Homo sapiens: one gene and its partners. The protein of the gene in region 1 purifies or fractionates together with the protein of each later gene. This does not show direct contact. Each region holds a gene or a part of one and is shown in the gene's direction. Other genes may lie near its edges. The genes, in order: ZNF609, SETD1B, WRAP73 and KANSL2.

The links.
Region 2: the proteins of ZNF609 (region 1) and SETD1B purify together in Homo sapiens (affinity purification with mass spectrometry, with the first as the bait; one large-scale study listed by BioGRID). This does not show direct contact.
Region 3: the proteins of ZNF609 (region 1) and WRAP73 purify together in Homo sapiens (co-immunoprecipitation; one large-scale study listed by IntAct). This does not show direct contact.
Region 4: the proteins of ZNF609 (region 1) and KANSL2 purify together in Homo sapiens (affinity purification with mass spectrometry, with the first as the bait; one large-scale study listed by BioGRID). This does not show direct contact.

What each region holds. Positions count from the first base shown.
Region 1 is NC_000015.10:64,458,513-64,463,377, forward strand, and holds the start of ZNF609 (zinc finger protein 609), read left to right. Parts: upstream 1-2,065; 5' UTR 2,066-2,326; intron 2,327-2,511; exon of another isoform or gene 2,512-2,655; intron 2,656-4,865. UniProt on the Homo sapiens protein: Transcription factor, which activates RAG1, and possibly RAG2, transcription. Through the regulation of RAG1/2 expression, may regulate thymocyte maturation.
Region 2 is NC_000012.12:121,813,768-121,817,859, forward strand, and holds part of SETD1B (histone-lysine N-methyltransferase SETD1B), read left to right. Parts: intron 1-338; coding exon 339-1,163; intron 1,164-3,265; coding exon 3,266-3,527; intron 3,528-3,602; coding exon 3,603-3,937; intron 3,938-4,031; coding exon 4,032-4,092. UniProt on the Homo sapiens protein: Histone methyltransferase that catalyzes methyl group transfer from S-adenosyl-L-methionine to the epsilon-amino group of 'Lys-4' of histone H3 (H3K4) via a non-processive mechanism.
Region 3 is NC_000001.11:3,639,958-3,644,049, reverse strand, and holds part of WRAP73 (WD repeat-containing protein WRAP73), read left to right. Parts: intron 1-4,092.
Region 4 is NC_000012.12:48,655,345-48,658,700, reverse strand, and holds part of KANSL2 (KAT8 regulatory NSL complex subunit 2), read left to right. Parts: intron 1-1,918; exon of another isoform or gene 1,919-2,053; intron 2,054-3,356. UniProt on the Homo sapiens protein: Non-catalytic component of the NSL histone acetyltransferase complex, a multiprotein complex that mediates histone H4 acetylation at 'Lys-5'- and 'Lys-8' (H4K5ac and H4K8ac) at transcription start sites and promotes transcription initiation.

The sequences.
Region 1 (4,865 bases):
TATTTTAGGCTTTACACAGGCCATGCAGTCCTTGTTTCAACTGTTCAACTCTGCTGTTGTAGTAAAAATGCATCTATAGATGATAATGTAAATGAATGAGCTTGGCTAGAGCCAATAAAACTATTTTTTTGTTTGTATTTTAAGACAGTTTCATTCTTGTTGCCCAGGCTGGAGTGCAGTGGCAAGATTTCGGCTCATTGCAACCTCCGCCTCCCGGGTTCAAGCGATTCTCCTGCCTCAGCCTCTCAAGTAGCTGGGATTACAAGCATGTACCACCACGCCCGGCTACTTTTGTATTTTTACGGGGTTTCTCCATGTTGGTCAGCCTGGTCTCGAATTCCCGACCTCACGTGATCCGCCCGCCTCAGCCTCCCAAAGTGCTGAGATTACAGGCGTGAGCCACCGCACCTGGCCTGAAATTTGAATTTCATATCATTTTCACATCATGAAATAGTATTTTGATTATTTAACTGTTTAAAAATGTAAAAATCATTCTAGCTCATGGGACATGTTAAAACAGGTGGTGAGCCTGATTTGACCTGTGAGATGCAGTTTGCCAACCCTTGGTCTAGAGGAACAGTAAATCAAAACTTAAGGTTTGTTTACTATGTGGGACATCTGATCACTTGAAAATTTTTAGTGGTTCTTCGAGGCTTGAGAACTTTCTCTGGCTGAAACTTGGAGTTCACTGCAGGAATGTTTACCTTCCTTTGTTCCCTATTTTTGCAGTCTAGTTCTCTCCAATGGCAGAGTCATGCTCCTTCAGTGGGAGATGACTACTGGAATGTTTAATCCTTAATTAAATCATGCCTAAGTCTAAAACACTAAACCCTTCTCTGTCTCCACCTGCTAAGTAGCTGAATCCTCACTTGTAACTTTGTCTAGTATACATTGGAAGTTCGCTGTCACCTGGGATCAGTTCTGCCCCTGTACTGTCTAACAACATGACTATTGGTGGACCAAAGAGAGATTATTTTTCCTAGACCAGAAAGGTTTACTTTTATCTTTAGCTATCAACCCCTCCCCCCACCTTTTTATGACCTCACTTTATCTCCAAGTCACATGCTATCTTGAGTGGCACTGTTGAAGGATGCCCCAGGATAAGGGAAAAAAGGTAAGATAAATGCAAAGCAAAATAAAATGGTCAAGGACACAGGAAGGACATAATAGGGGCTAGGATGTGGGAGGCCTTGAGAATTAAGGTAAATTTGTTTGCTATGGAATGAGATGGAAGTCTTAGGAGGTCGTCATGAATAGATGTTTCACAAGTGAAAGCTGGGTGGGAGGGCTCACTTAAACATGGACTGAATGCCTACTGTGCACTAGATAGTATGCTGGGCAATCAGAGATGAATAGCAGATAAGGAAAAATAAAAGCTACAATCCTTAGAATGGTGGGTTGGAGAAGGACAGAATAAGGTTTTTAGATAATAAAAGGCAACAAGATTTAGTGATAGAGGATGGTGAGGGGAAAAGGGATATATAGAGGGATTAGAAATGGGTGCTTTGGGGAGAAAAGCAAGTGGTAATCCTAAAAGAGAAAGCTGGAGAACAAAGGATAAAAAATTAGGAGGTTGGTACTTTGCTGAACTAAGGGGTAAAATGGATGAAACCATCAGGAGCTGTGATTGCTCTTCTGTTCTTTGTGGATGCCCATGTTCAGATCCCCTACGGCCCTTTCCTCTCTGTGGTTGAAGGACAACTACAGAAGAGGTGTCTTCTGTGTTATAAGGTGCAATACTCCCCCCAGAGACCTCTCTATGAGGAAGTCTGATCCAGCGAGAGTTCTACTGCCCACGAGGGGACAGCGTTAGGTTCGAGCTCTCTAATCCAGGTTTCTTTGAGTTTATCTTGGTTCTAACCGGCACGCCGGGTTTTCCAGCATTCCCTGAGCTAAGACTCCCTAATCTGGGCTCCGGGTGAGCGCGCATTCCGAGACCCAGGATTTCGCTCCTTCATCCAGGTTCCGGGTTTCCCCTGCGCTCACCGGCTCCAGACTCCACACAAGCGCGGAATCCGGATCCGAGGGCCTGGCAGTCCAGTGTCCGCGTCTTCCGGGTGACTCTGGTTGTCCCGGATCGCGGCGGCGGCGGCGGTGGCGGCGGCTGAGGGACCCGCGGCCCCGGACACAGCGGCACCGGCCGGGCGGGGCGGAGAGGCGCGGGGAGGGGGCAGAGAGCCAGAGCCGGAGCCGGAGCCGGAGCCGGGGTGGGGTGGGGGGGAGGGGCCGCGGGAACGGATGGCGGCCTGGGCCCCGTAGCAGCGGCGGCTCTACGGCCCGGGGCCCCGGGCGGGCGGAGGTGGCGGCTCCCGGGACCGGCCGCGCGGTGAGTCCGGAGCTTTGTGTGGAGCCGGGACTGGGGGAGGAAAGAGGCGGCGGCACCGATGGGGCGCGGGGCTGAGGGGATCTGATGGGGGCCGGGGGCGGCGGCGCTGCCTGACGGAGGAAGTGGGGGTTGGGGGGGCTGGGGCGGAGCGAGGGGAAGGTGTGTAGGGGGGGTCGTTGCGTGGGTGGGGGAGGGGGCGTCGAGGGGCGCGGGGTGAAGTTCAAAGCGTGGCCACGGCCGGTTCAGGCTGAGGGTAGGGGTGCCCGGGAGGGGATTAGGGTCTGGCTAGGTTATGGGAGCAGGCCAGAGAGTTTCTGAGGCGAGTCTGGGTATGTTGAGGGCGCTCGGGGCGACTGGGGCCAGTCAGGGAGTTGGCGGGGGAGGGGGGGCGGGGGCGGTGGTGGTTGTTCAGAGCATAGGGTCGGAAGCAGGACGTGTGCGTGACCTAGGAGTGGGGAGCAAGGTGGCTGGGATCCTGCAGTAAGTAGGTTGTGGGTGTGTGCCCCTAACAGTCTTCAGGTCACATTTACTCCTGTCCTTTTCTTCAAGATGGAGGGATCCCTGGGCCTGGACCTCAACTGCTATCCTTGTACCCCCGGGAGGGTTTGTGACCCTATCCTGTTTGGAAAACCCATGCTGCCCTCTTTTCCCTTTATGTGTAATTACGGTTGGATCATCTCTGTGCTTTGCTCAGATTCTCCTTCCTCCCTCTGGGGTTGAGGAGGAGGAGACACATCTGACCAATTAATGTGTGTTTGTGAAACAGGCAGCAGCAAACAGTCATTTCAGCTTCGAGGAATTAGGCTCACACAGGGTGGAGAGATCAGAGCCCTTCAGGGGGAATATTTCTGAACAAATCACGGATGATTAAATTCTCTAAGAAACAGCTCCCTACCTAAATGAGAGTGAGAAAGATAGGGAAGAAAGCCTGTCTGTTTCCAGCCATGTGTCCAGAGCCTAAGGGGTTGAGGAGAGTCCCCAAGCCCCTACAGGCCTCCCTTTTCTGTATTAGGCTTTGCTCTGCAGCCTTGAGTTAATTTCACCCCTGCTGCTTTGTCTTGGGGGAGGGAGTGCTGGTTTAGGCTGTTGTGAGGAGATGACTGTTCTGCTGCCACACACAATAGTCGTGTCATTTTATCGGGAGCGCTACCCCAGGGCTGAGAACTGCTGCAGCAGAGATAAACCGGTCCCTCTCACCCGCCTATTGTGTACACAGTGAAGGTCATAGGTTCAAGTCTTGTCTGAGAGCTTTGGATATGCTCCATCTCCCAGGCTCCTCAGTGCCATTTTCTTCCTTTTCCAGACTGGGGCTTGCCATTGGAGGAGGCCAGAGAGAAAGGCTCTTCTTTTTGAGTGAGGAACAATGCAGAGCTCATTGGCACACATTTTTCAGAAGAATAAGGGATGCCAGCCATGTTGTGCCTGCCTCTTTGGCTAGCCTGTACTAAGTTGTGAAGGAATAGTGTCTGGTAGACTCAACTACGATGTTTGTTTCAGACCCTTAAGGAAGAAGACTTCAAGGGAAGGTTCTACTCTTAGTTGAATCATCATATTTAATTCTTTTATATGAATGGAACACTCATGCAGTGATTTTTGTTTGTTTCCGAATACCACTAAAAACCTGTGCAGTGTTAAGATGGGGAGTCAAGCCCAGGTGTGGTGGCTCATGCTTGTAATCTTGGCACTTTGGGAGAATGAAGCCAGAGGATGGCTGGAGCCCAGGAGTTTAAGACCAGCCTGGGCAACAAAGCAAGACCCTGTTTCTTTAAAAATAAAAAATAAAAAAGTCAAGAACCAAGTACCTTTTTAATGGTGGCTTCCTGGTCAATAATAATAGCACAACAAAAAAGCCACAGAATTTGCCTATCTGGGCAAGGGCTGTGGGAACAAACCTTTCAATATTTATTTTAACTCTAATGAAAGGACATGAGTTGCTCATTGTGCAAAAGTCTATATCTGCCTCTGTATTAAGAAATTTGCCAAAGAAATAAACATTTTTGAAAAAATGTATGGGTCTTAGGGATTATTAGTGAGAGAAGGATGAGAACAAACTAGAAGGAATCCTATTGTACATATCTGATAGAAGTGCTCAAATAATATTTATGTACTATTAGTTGTGTAAAAAATTATTTGGGACCAGGCATGGTGCTCACACCTGTAATCCCAGCACTTTGGGAGGCTGAGGCAGGAGGATCACTTGAGCCTAGGAGTTTGAGAGTGGCCTGGGCAACATAGTGAGAACTCATCTCTACAAAAATTTAAAAAAATACAGCTAGCTGGGCATAGTGGCACATGCCAGTGGTCCCAGCTACTCAGGAGGCTGAGGTGGGAAGATCGCTTGAGTTCAGGAGTTCGAGACCAGCTTGGGCAACATGGCAAAACCCCATCTCAACAAAAAATATAAAAAATGTTAGCTGGGTGTAGTGGCATACGCCTGTGGTCCCAGCTTCTTGGGAGGCTGAGGTAGAAAGATCTCGTTGAGCCCAGGAGGTTGAGGCTGCAGTGAGCTGTGATTGCACCGCTGTACTCCAGCCTGGGT
Region 2 (4,092 bases), on another chromosome or scaffold:
CTTTTGCCTTTTCCTGCTGGCTCCGCTCCACAAGAGTAAGATGTTTGCCTGCCTCTTCAACTTTGTGTCCCCAGCACCTAGACCAGTGCCTGGCACACAGGTACTGAGCAAATGTTTGTTGAATTGGAATGAATGAATGAATTCTAGTGGTAACTCCATGAGGCAGGGACTATGATGCCCATTTTGCAAATGAAGACGCTGAGGCTTGGAGAGGCTGAATGGCTTGCACTGGGTCACACAGCTGGGAGTGCCACTGATTGCTAGTCTTGCAGAGGGGACTCCGAGAGCCCCTTGGCCTTCCAGACTCACCTCACTGTCTCTCCCTGCTCTCTCTGCAGGGCCAGCAGTCCTCAGGCGAGGACATGGAGATCTCGGATGACGAGATGCCCTCGGCCCCCATCACCAGCGCTGACTGCCCCAAGCCCATGGTGGTGACCCCAGGAGCGGCAGCCGTGGCAGCCCCTTCTGTGCTAGCCCCAACCCTGCCGCTGCCCCCGCCACCTGGCTTCCCCCCGCTGCCCCCCCCACCACCACCACCCCCACCGCAGCCTGGCTTCCCCATGCCCCCACCGCTGCCCCCACCGCCGCCCCCACCCCCTCCAGCCCACCCTGCTGTGACAGTGCCCCCACCACCCTTGCCAGCGCCGCCTGGAGTCCCGCCCCCACCCATCCTGCCACCACTGCCCCCCTTTCCGCCGGGCCTGTTCCCTGTGATGCAGGTGGACATGAGCCACGTGCTGGGTGGCCAGTGGGGCGGCATGCCCATGTCCTTCCAGATGCAAACGCAGGTGCTCAGCCGGCTGATGACGGGCCAGGGCGCCTGCCCCTACCCGCCCTTCATGGCCGCTGCGGCCGCCGCTGCCTCAGCTGGGCTCCAGTTTGTCAACCTGCCGCCCTACCGGGGCCCCTTCTCCCTGAGCAACTCCGGCCCAGGCCGCGGGCAGCACTGGCCACCACTGCCCAAGTTTGACCCGTCAGTGCCTCCACCAGGCTACATGCCACGCCAGGAGGACCCACACAAAGCCACGGTGGATGGCGTCCTGCTGGTGGTCCTCAAAGAACTCAAGGCCATCATGAAGCGTGACCTGAACCGCAAGATGGTGGAAGTGGTGGCTTTCCGGGCCTTTGACGAGTGGTGGGACAAGAAGGAGCGGATGGCCAAGGTGGGTGGGTGGGTGCAGGGCTCTGCAGGGTGGCTGTGGAGGGGGGCAGGTCCCCAGCCGGGCACCTCCTCTTTCCCTGAGACTGTTAACTGGAAACGCTGCCGTGGACCCCACTATGGGAGCTCCATTTCATGTGGCCACTTTCAAAGTTCCGCAAACTGTGCTCCACTTCAGCAGCCACTAGATGCACACGGCTCTTTGAATTTAAATGAGTGGCCAGGCATGGTGGCGTACACCTTTAATCCCAGCACTTTGGGAGGCTGAGGTGGGAGGATTGCTTGAGCCTAGGAGTTCAAGATCAGCCTGAGCAGTATAGCAAGAGCCCATCTCTAAAAATAAATGTGCAAATTAACTTAAATGAATTAAAACAGAGTAAAATTAAAACTCCTCCTTTGTACATGCCACATTTCAAGTGCTCGGGAGCCACAGGTGCCTAGTGGTAGTACACAGGATAGCTGGTGCAGACTGCCCCCCCCGCCCATTGCAGACAGCTCACAGCTGCGACTCCCTTTGAACTTGACTCCCCTCACCTCCCCTCATGCCGCCTTTTACACGGAGCCCTGTCTTGGACCACTTTTTTCCTTTTTTTGTTTTTTTGAGACAGGGTCTCGCTGTATCGTCCAGGCTGGAGTGTAGTGGCGCAATCATAGCTCACTGCACCCTCAACCTCCCTGTGCTCAAGGGATCCTCTCACCTCAGCCTCCAAGTAGCTGGGACTACAGGCATGTACCACCACACCCAGCTAATTTGTGTGTTTTTCTGTAAAGACAGAGTTTCACCACGTTGCCCAGGCTGGTCTTGAACTCCTAGGCTCAAGTGATCCTCTGCCTTTTGGGCTGGGATTATATGCGTCAGCCACCGCTCCTGGCCTACTTACTATTTTCTTTTCTTTCTTTTTTTTTTTTTTTTTTTTCGGAGATGGAGTCTCACTCTGTCACCCTGGCTGGAGTGCAATGGCGTGATCTCAGCCCTCTGCAGCCTCCACCTCCTGGGTTCAAGCGATTCTCCTGCCTCAGTGTCCTAAGTAGCTGGGACTATAGGCACCCACTACCATGCCTGGCTGATTTTTGTATTTTTAGTAGAGATGGGGTTTCACCTTGTTGGCCAGGCTGGTCTCGAACTCCTGACCTCAAGTGATCCACCTGCTTCAGCCTACCAAAGTGCTGGGATTACAGATGTGAGCCACTATGCCTGGTCTCTTTTTTCCTTTTTAACATATTATTTGCCTGTTTGCAATCTTACAGGTAATCTAAAATTACTTATTTTCTCCATAAGAGAGAACTTTTTCTTGAATACTTTAAACTCCCCTTAATCCCTCCCCTCCACCCCATTCCCCCCTGCTCCCCTCCCTCGACCGTGGTTATGAGTTTGAGTGTCCCCTGGAGCCTGCTTTGGGAAATGCTTGCTTTCTGCCACAGAGGTAAGCAGCACTTGTCAGAGCCTGTTTGTCATCCGTTTAACTGGGCAGTAAAATTAGAATGAACCGTCTGAAATCACTGATACACAGCTCTTTATGGTTCAGCCAAATTATACTGACCCTACAGTAACAGCTAATAGCTATTCCATTCACAATTTGAATAAAAAGAGCCACCAGGCCTCATGTGCCCTGCACCTTGCAAAGCTCTTCATGTGGCTCGTTTTGTTAATTCTCACAGCATCCCTTTGAAGGCAGAGCATTTCAGAACCACAGGGGCAACCCCTTAGTGAGCAGTGAAATAAAGCCAGTAGGTCCTGTTTTTAATGCATGGGAAGAGAAGAGAAAATGGGATAGTGTAAATCTTACCTTGTGAAGGTGGTGTTGCACAGATGTGTCCCTATGGTGTAGTTTTTGGATTGTCTGCAAAGTGCAAAGGCCACTGTTGTAAGGAAGGCAGGTACAGTAGTCCTATTCTACAGGGGAGGACATTGAGATCTATGAGGCAGAGCGGTGCTCTAGAGCCTCGTGGGTAACGGCATAGTGTGGCCAGGTGTGTAGGGAATGAGGATGCAGTTACCTGTGGTGGCTGTTACTGCCGAGTGGAAGGCAGGTAGCCTGGGGAGGGCTCCCTGCAAGGGTTGGTGGTGCCAGAAGCGGTGACGGTCCCCTCCTGTCTCCACCCCAGGCCTCGCTGACCCCGGTGAAGTCGGGCGAGCACAAGGACGAGGACAGGCCGAAGCCCAAGGACCGCATCGCCTCGTGCCTGCTGGAGTCATGGGGCAAGGGCGAGGGCCTGGGCTACGAGGGCCTGGGCCTGGGCATTGGGCTGCGTGGGGCCATTCGCCTGCCCTCCTTCAAGGTCAAGAGGAAGGAGCCACCAGACACCACCTCATCTGGCGACCAGAAGCGGCTGCGGCCCTCGACCTCTGTGGATGAGGAAGATGAAGGTTCGTGCTCTGGGTGCTGGGGTCCCCTTCTTCCGCATCCCCCCAGCCCAGCTCTGACTCCCTCCCTTCCTGCAGAGTCCGAGCGAGAGCGAGACCGGGATATGGCAGACACCCCCTGTGAGCTCGCCAAGCGGGACCCCAAGGGCGTGGGTGTGCGGCGGCGGCCGGCGCGGCCTCTGGAGCTGGACAGTGGTGGGGAGGAGGACGAGAAGGAGTCATTGTCGGCGTCCTCGTCCTCATCCGCGTCATCATCCTCGGGGTCCTCAACCACCTCACCCTCGTCCTCGGCCTCCGACAAGGAGGAGGAACAGGAGAGCACCGAGGAGGAAGAGGAGGCGGAGGAGGAGGAGGAGGAGGAAGTCCCCAGGAGCCAGCTCTCCTCCTCCTCAACCTCATCCACATCAGATAAGGTGCCTAGCAGGCCAGGAAGCCTCAGGGGGCCGGGCCAGGCGACGAGGGCCAGACCCTTCGGCTCACCTGTCCCCACTCTTCCTTCTCCCCCAGGATGACGACGATGACGACAGTGATGACCGGGACGAGTCTGAGAACGATGACGAGGACACAG
Region 3 (4,092 bases), on another chromosome or scaffold:
GGCGCGACCCCATGTCCGGGGCTCAGCGGGGCCGCTGGGTCCCCTTCCGAAGGCGCGACCCCATGTCCGGGGCTCAGCGGGGCCGCTGGGTCCCCTTCCGAAGGCGCGACCCCATGTCCGGGGCTCAGCGGGGCCGCTGGGTCCCCTTCCGAAGGCGCGACCCCATGTCCGGGGCTCAGCGGGGCCGCTGGGTCCCCTTCCGAAGGCGCGACCCCATGTCCGGGGCTCAGCGGGGCCGCTGGGTCCCCTTCCGAAGGCGCGACCCCATGTCCGGGGCTCAGCGGGGCCGCTGGGTCCCCTTCCGAAGGCGCGACCCCATGTCCGGGGCTCAGCGGGGCCGCTGGGTCCCCTTCCGAAGGCGCGACCCCATGTCCGGGGCTCAGCGGGGCCGCTGGGTCCCCTTCCGAAGGCGCGACCCCATGTCCGGGGCTCAGCGGGGCCGCTGGGTCCCCTTCCGAAGGCGCGACCCCATTTCGGGGGTTAGTGGGGCCGCTGAGTCCACTTGCGAAGGCGCCACCCCACGTGAGGGTGCTGTGGAGCATGGGAGACGTCCCTGCCTCTTGCATTTTAACGTGAAAAGGCAAGCTTGCGCCCATTAGACGAGGTTCAGTGAGTCATCAAAAGCGGCTCACCCCTAGGCCTGCAGCGGAACACTGCCGCGCTTTCAGAGCCCTTCTCTTCCTCGTAGCAATGCCCTCCCCACCTGAGGGCACCTTTGCCCCACGTCTTGCGTGAATCACATCCTCACTGTTCTTGAGTCTCACTGTACAGATGTGTCTAAACACCACATTGCTTGCTGTGCAGTGTAAAGTTGATTTATAGGGGCTTGTACTTTGCAGTCTCTGCTGTTGCTGTTCCCCGTCACTGCTTTTAGACTCCTCCGTGTTGACAGGCATCGCTGGGCCTTCCCTTCCTCGTGAGGAACGCCATTCAGTCCTCGCCTGCTGGACGTGTGCGTCACCACGGACGGTGTGGCTGTGAACGTGTTGTCCCCGTCTCCTGGGCACATACCCGGAGAGCCTCTCTAGGAGAGCCTTGCTTGGCCGTAGCAGACGGAGGGGTTTCATTTGCCAAGGCTTTTGTGGCAGGATTACAATGATTCCATCCAGGCGACTAAATGATACTGCAGTTTGGATTTAGTTTGCGTTTCCCTAATTCTCGGTGAGGTTGAGTGCTTTCCTATCTTGTTTCATTACACACAGACGCTCACACATGCTCCATTTAAATGAAGCAGGTTCACGTAGTGGGGCACACTGTGGGGTCTGAATCCATTTCTACCTTTTCCCAGCAGCATTTTTTTTTTTTTTTTTTTGAGATGGAGTTTCGCTCTTGTCCCCCAGGCTGTAGTGCAATGGTGTGATCCAAGCTCACCGCAACCTACGCCTCCCAGGTTCAAGCGATTTTCCTGCCTCAGCCTCCCGAGTAGCTGGGATTACAGGCATGCGCCACCACGCCTGGCTAATTTTGTATTTTTAGTAGAGATGGGGTTTCTCATGTTGGTCAGGCTGGTCTCAAACTCTCGACCTCAGTTGATCTGCCTGCCTCGGCCTCCCAAAGTGCTGGGATTACAGGTGTGAGCCACCGTGCCCAGCTCCCAGCAGCATTTATTTAGAAGGCTATCTTCACCAGCTATAGCAGGAGCTCAGTTCCATTATACCTGCAGGATCACTTCTGGTTTCCATTCCAGTCCACTGTTGGTCCACCTATGTGCCAGCACCACACTGTCTACATTATTGAGGTTCTATGGTGTGTTTGAATATCTGATGGGACTGATTCCTCTTCATTGCTCTTGTAGTCTGTCAGATTTTTTAAAAACAATTTTTTTGTAGAGTTGGGGTCTCCCTTTGTTTCCCAGGCTGGTCTCGAGCTCCTAAACTCACGCAATCCTTCCTTCCCAGCCTCCTGTATAGCTGGCATTACAGGTGCACAACAGTGCGCCCGGCTCTGCCAGATTTTTAAATGTATTTTTGAGACTTTGTTGTTAGCTGCATACAAACTTTTAACTGTTTGTAAACAGATTTCCTAGTGAAGCGGTTCCCATGATTCCGCGGTGGCACAGGCCTTTTGTTGTAAAGTATTCCTCTTTATGTCTCACGGTTCTTTTTGTTTCAGAGTCTGATTTATCCCGTACGAATGCGGCAGTGCCACCTTTCTCTTGGTTAGGATTTTCTTGATATGTCTTTTTCTATCCTTTTACCTTCTACATTTCTGCATCCTTAAACTTGAGTGTGTATGTTGTAAATAGTCTATAGTTAGCTTTAAAAATATATCCAGACTGCAGACTTTTTCTTATATCTGAATAAAGGCAATTAAAACAATTTATAAGCAAGAGAATTCACCCACTTTAAGAGCACAGTTGAGTGAGTCACTTTGCACGTCATTGCCGCCACAATCAGGACCAAGACTGTTCGCCCGTGGCATGGGGCTCCTCGTGCCCCTTGTGCTCAGTCCGTCTCCCACCTGTGTCCGGCAGCCGGTGCCTGCTGCGGGGCGAGCAGCACTGCCTACTCGGAATCCCATCTGCACAGAGCCATGGTGCGTGGAGCTGTGCGTCTGCTTCCTTTTCCCTGGCATCTTGCTGGTTTTGAGTGTGCTGGGTTGTGGGGTGGATCAGTGGCCCGTTCCTCCATCTTGAGAGTGCTGGGTCATGGTGTGGAGAGAGTGCTGGGTCGTGGCATGGATCAGTGGCCTGTTCCTCCCGTCTTGAGTGTACTGGGTCATGGCTTGGATCCGTGGCCCATTCCTCTCACCCTGAGCATGCTGAGTTGTGGTGTGGATCGGTGGCCCGTTCCTTCCGTCTTCAGCACACTGGGTCGTAGCGTGGATCAGCGGCCCCTTCCTTCCCTCCTGAGTGCTCTGGGTCATGTGGATCCCTCTGGTCCTTTCTTCCTGCTGCTGAGTGCTGTGGAGCCCATCCCACGGGTCTCCTCCGCTGGCTTCTCCAGTGGTCAGTGGAAGGTAACAGCGCTGATGAAGGTGTATATTTAACTACCTTTTTTTCTTATTGGGTTTTTAAAAGTTGCAAAGTTATCTTTTAAAGGTTTTTGTTTCTTTGTTTTTGTGAGATGAAGGTAAAAATCAGGCTTAAAGTGCTCCCTGTGTTTCCTAAGATGTGCCTGAGTGGGGAGCCTCGGCCAGGCGCACCCCACAGGGATGCAGGGCCACAGGTGGGAGATGTGCTTTTCTCCTGTGACTCTGCAGTAGGCTCTGGAGGGCAGGTCTCTGCCCTGGGTGGCACATGGACTCTCCTGATGCTGAGAGGCTCGGGCGCTGCACCCCGCCCTGCTGATGCTGAGATGCTTGGGTGCTCCACCCCGCCCTGCTGATGCTGAGATGCTCCGTTGCTGCACCCTGCCCTGCTGATGCTGAGATGCTCGGGCGCTCCACCCTGCCCTGCTGATGCTCAGAGCCTCGGGCGCTCCACCCCGCCCTGCTGACGCTCAGAGCCTGGGGCGTTCCACCCTGCCCTGCTGATGCTCAGAGCCTCGGGCGCTGCACCCCGCCCTGCTGATGCTCAGAGCCTCGGGCGCTGCACCCCGCCCTGCTGATGCTCAGAGCCTCGGGTGTTCCACCCTGCCCTGCTGATGCTCAGAGCCTCGGGCGCTCCACCCCGCCCTGCTGATGCTGAGATGCTCGGGCGCTCCACCCCGCCCTGCTGATGCTCAGAGCCTCAGGCGCTGCACCCACCCTGCTGAGTCTGAGAGGCTTGGGCAAGGTTTCAGCCTCAGACACGCTGGTGGGAAGTAGCACGCTTCCTCGCTCAGGCCCCAGCGCCCTCCTTGGCCTCAGCTTGTGGAGCTGTTAGAGGAGCAAGTGCTCTGTGCAGCTGGAGTTCCGAGGCATGGTCCCCAGAACGGCCAGTGTGTTTCGGGTTCAGCATCAGCACAGGAGCCCTTCCGTGCTGCCACGTGACCCCTGGAGCTCGTTGATCCACTACCTGTGTGTTCAGGACTTCTCTCCTGAACGCTGTATATGTTGTTTGGAGAAACAATTACAGACATCAGATTTTCTTTTCTGTTGTAAGAAGAGATGATGCGTAGACATTTAAATTAAATCATTTGTTAATATCCTATACTGACAACCTGGCAGCGT
Region 4 (3,356 bases), on another chromosome or scaffold:
ACTGCAACCTTCACCATCTGGGTTCAAGCAATTCTCCTGTTCCTGCCTCCCGAGTAGCTGGGATTACAGGTGTGTGCCACCATGTCTGGCTAATTTTTGTATTTTTTAGTAGAGATGGGGTTTCGCCATGTTGGCCAGGCTGGTCTCGATCTCCTAACCTCAGGTGATCCACTCCCCTCAGCTTCCCCAAAGTGCTGAGATTATAGACATGAGACATCGCGCCCAGCTGAAAACATGGATTCTCTTTATATCCTGATACTTCAATTTTTAAAACACTCCTGTTTTAATAGGCATTTTTGCTGATTTTCTTATTTTAGGATCCTTTTCCCAGTTTAAAATCTTATAAAAGACAACCCTTTGTATATATGAGAAAAGCCTTTTCTGAAAACATACACATTCCATTATTATCTTGAGATTTAGATGCCTTTTGATTCAGTGTTTAAATAATTCCAAGCTAGTCATTATTATTTTTGACAGAGTCTCGCTCTGTCACCTAGGCTGGAGTGCATTGGCGTGATCTCGGCTCACTGCACTGTCTGCCTCCTGGGTTCAAGCGATTCTCCGGTCTAAGCCTTCCGAGTAGTTGGGATTACAGGTGCGCCCCACTGTGCTTGGCTAATTTTTGTATTTTTAGTAGAGACAGGGTTTCACCATGTTGGCCAGGCTGGTCTCAAGCTCCTGGCCTCAAGTGTTTCGCCCACCTTGGCCTCCCAAAGTGCTAGGATTACAGGCGTGAGCCACCGTGCCCATTCCAAGCTAATTGTTTATGTAAGAATTGCACATGGGCCGGGTGCGGTGGCTGACGCTTGTAATCCCAGCACTTTGGGAGTCCGAGACGGGTAGATCACCTGAGGTCAGGAGTTCTAGACTAGCCTGGCCAACATGGTGAAACTCCGTCTCTACCAAAAATACAACAATTAGCTGGATGTGGTGGCACGCGCCTGTAATCCCAGCTACTGGGGAGGCTGAGGCAGGAGAATCGCTTGAACCCAGGAGGTGGAGGTTGCAGTGAGCCAAGATCTTGCCATTGCACTCCAGCCTGGGTAACAAGAGTGAAACTCTGTCTCACACACACGCACGCACACACACACACACAAATTGCACATAGTAAAAGAATGGGAGAAAACAGATTTATAGTCTTAATGGTGTGAGAACACTGGTTTCTGTGGGTAGTACAGAAGTTTCCAACTCACCTGAAAATGAATGGTAGGTTGAGTGTATCCTGTGCCCTATGTTTCTGCTTAAATTGAGCAGCTTTATTTTATTATTTTTTTTTGAGACAGAGTCTTGCTCTGTTGCCCAGACTGGAGTGCAGTGGTGCAGTCTCGGCTCACTGCAACCTCTGCCTCCTGGGTTCAAGCAATTCTCCTGCCTCAGTGTCCTGAGTAGCTGGGACTACAGGTATGTGCCAAGACGCCTGGCTAATTTTTGTATTTTTAGTAGAGATGGGGTTTCACCATGTTGGCCAGGCTGGTAATTTTTTGTGGAGACTGGGTTTCACCATGTTAGCCAGGATGGTCTCAATCTCTTGACCTCATGATCCGCCCACCTTGGCCTCCCAAAGTGTTAGGATTGCAGGCGTGAGCCACTGCACCCGGCCTGAGCAGCTTTAAGTAGATTTTAAAATTATATATATTCTTTAATGTGAAGATGTTGTGATTCTCATTTTTGGTGATTAGCACACCAACAAATGGGAAAGGATTGCAAATTCTTAGATTTATTTAAAAGCGTAGAACTAAGCTTCTCGTGAAGCTAGATGAATAGAAACACGGAGCATCTATAAACTGGATTAAACATAGGGGGGTACAAACCTCCTGGATATTTTTAATTCTTAGGAAGAAGGAGAATTTAGCACCAGACTCTTGAAAAGCAGTGGCATGAAAGTTAGTTTGATATATTGTTTGAGTTTGTATTGCCTTAGGCCCTGAATCAAGACCAATGGTTTGCTGTAGCTGTTGGTTTCAAACAGGAGCTAAGAGTGATGTCTTCCTTGTGGTCTGTTGGCTATTCAGTATTCCAGTGCGAATTGCCAATTCAGTTGGAAGAAACATAGTCTAGAATGTAATGTCATTTTTTTTTTTTTTTTTTTTACAGAGCAAAACTATGTTAGGCTTAAGAACCAGGGAGTTGGCCGGGCGTGGTGGCTCATGCCTGTAATCCCAGCACTTTGGGAGGCTGAGGTGGGCCAATCACTGGTCGGGAGATCAAGGCCATCCTGGCTAACATGGTGAAACCCTGTCTCTACTAAAAATACAAAAAATTAGCTGGGCGTGGTGGCACACGCCCATAGTCCCAGCTACTGGGGAGGCTGAGGCAGGAGAATCACTTGAACCCAGGAGGCGGAGGTTGCAGTGAGCCGAGATCACGTCACTGCACTCCAGCCTGGGCGACAGAGCGAGACTCTGTCTCAAAAAAAAAAAAAACAAAACAAAAAAAACCAGGTTGTTGCTCTGTCGGGATAGGGACTTAACCAAAATAATATTTCCTAGCCATTCAGAGGAACTGTGAGTTTTCTGTTGTCCTTCCTTTCTTCCTACCTTCTCCCTTTCCCTTGTTGGAGCTTGTTTGCTTGCTTTGTGGCTGTTAGGATATTAATCAGGCAATCTTGTATTACCCAGCAATATTTAATTTTAACGTAGCATTGTTCATATTTAAATTAATCACTGGTGAACTTACATGTTCATTACAGGTAGCCTCAGAGAATATGCTTTTTTAAAAAATATTTTTTTAATTGTAGTAAAACATACATAACAAAATTTTACTCTTTTAACCTATGTATGTATGTGTGTAAGTAGGTGGGTAGGTAGAGATGGAGTCTTGCTGTGTCACCCAGGCTGGTCTTGAATTCCTGGCCTCAAGTGATCCTCCCACTTCGGCTTCCCAAGGTGTTGTTATCATAGGCATGAGCCACTGCACCTGGCCGTTTTTAAGTGTACAAGTCAGTGGTGTTATGAACATTTACCATGTTGTACAGCTATCACCATTTTCTGTTCCAGAACTTTTTCATCAACCCAAACAGAAACTTTGTACTTTTTAAACAGTAACTCTCTCCTTTCCCTTTCCCCTGTTCCCTACTATTCTCCGTTTCTACTTTGTGTTTCTGTGAATTTTCCTAGAATTTTTTTTTTTTTTGAGACAGGGTCTGGCTCTGCCACCCAGGTTAGAGTGCAGAGGTGCAGTCTCGGCTCACTGCAGCCTCTGCGTCCCAAGCTTGAGGGATCCTCCCACCTCAACCTCCAGAGTAGCTGGGACTACAGGTGTGTGCCACCGCGCCTGGCTTATTTTTGCAGTTTTTGTAGAGACGGGGTTTCACCATGTTGCCCAGGCTGGTCTTGAACTCCTGGGCTCAAGTGATA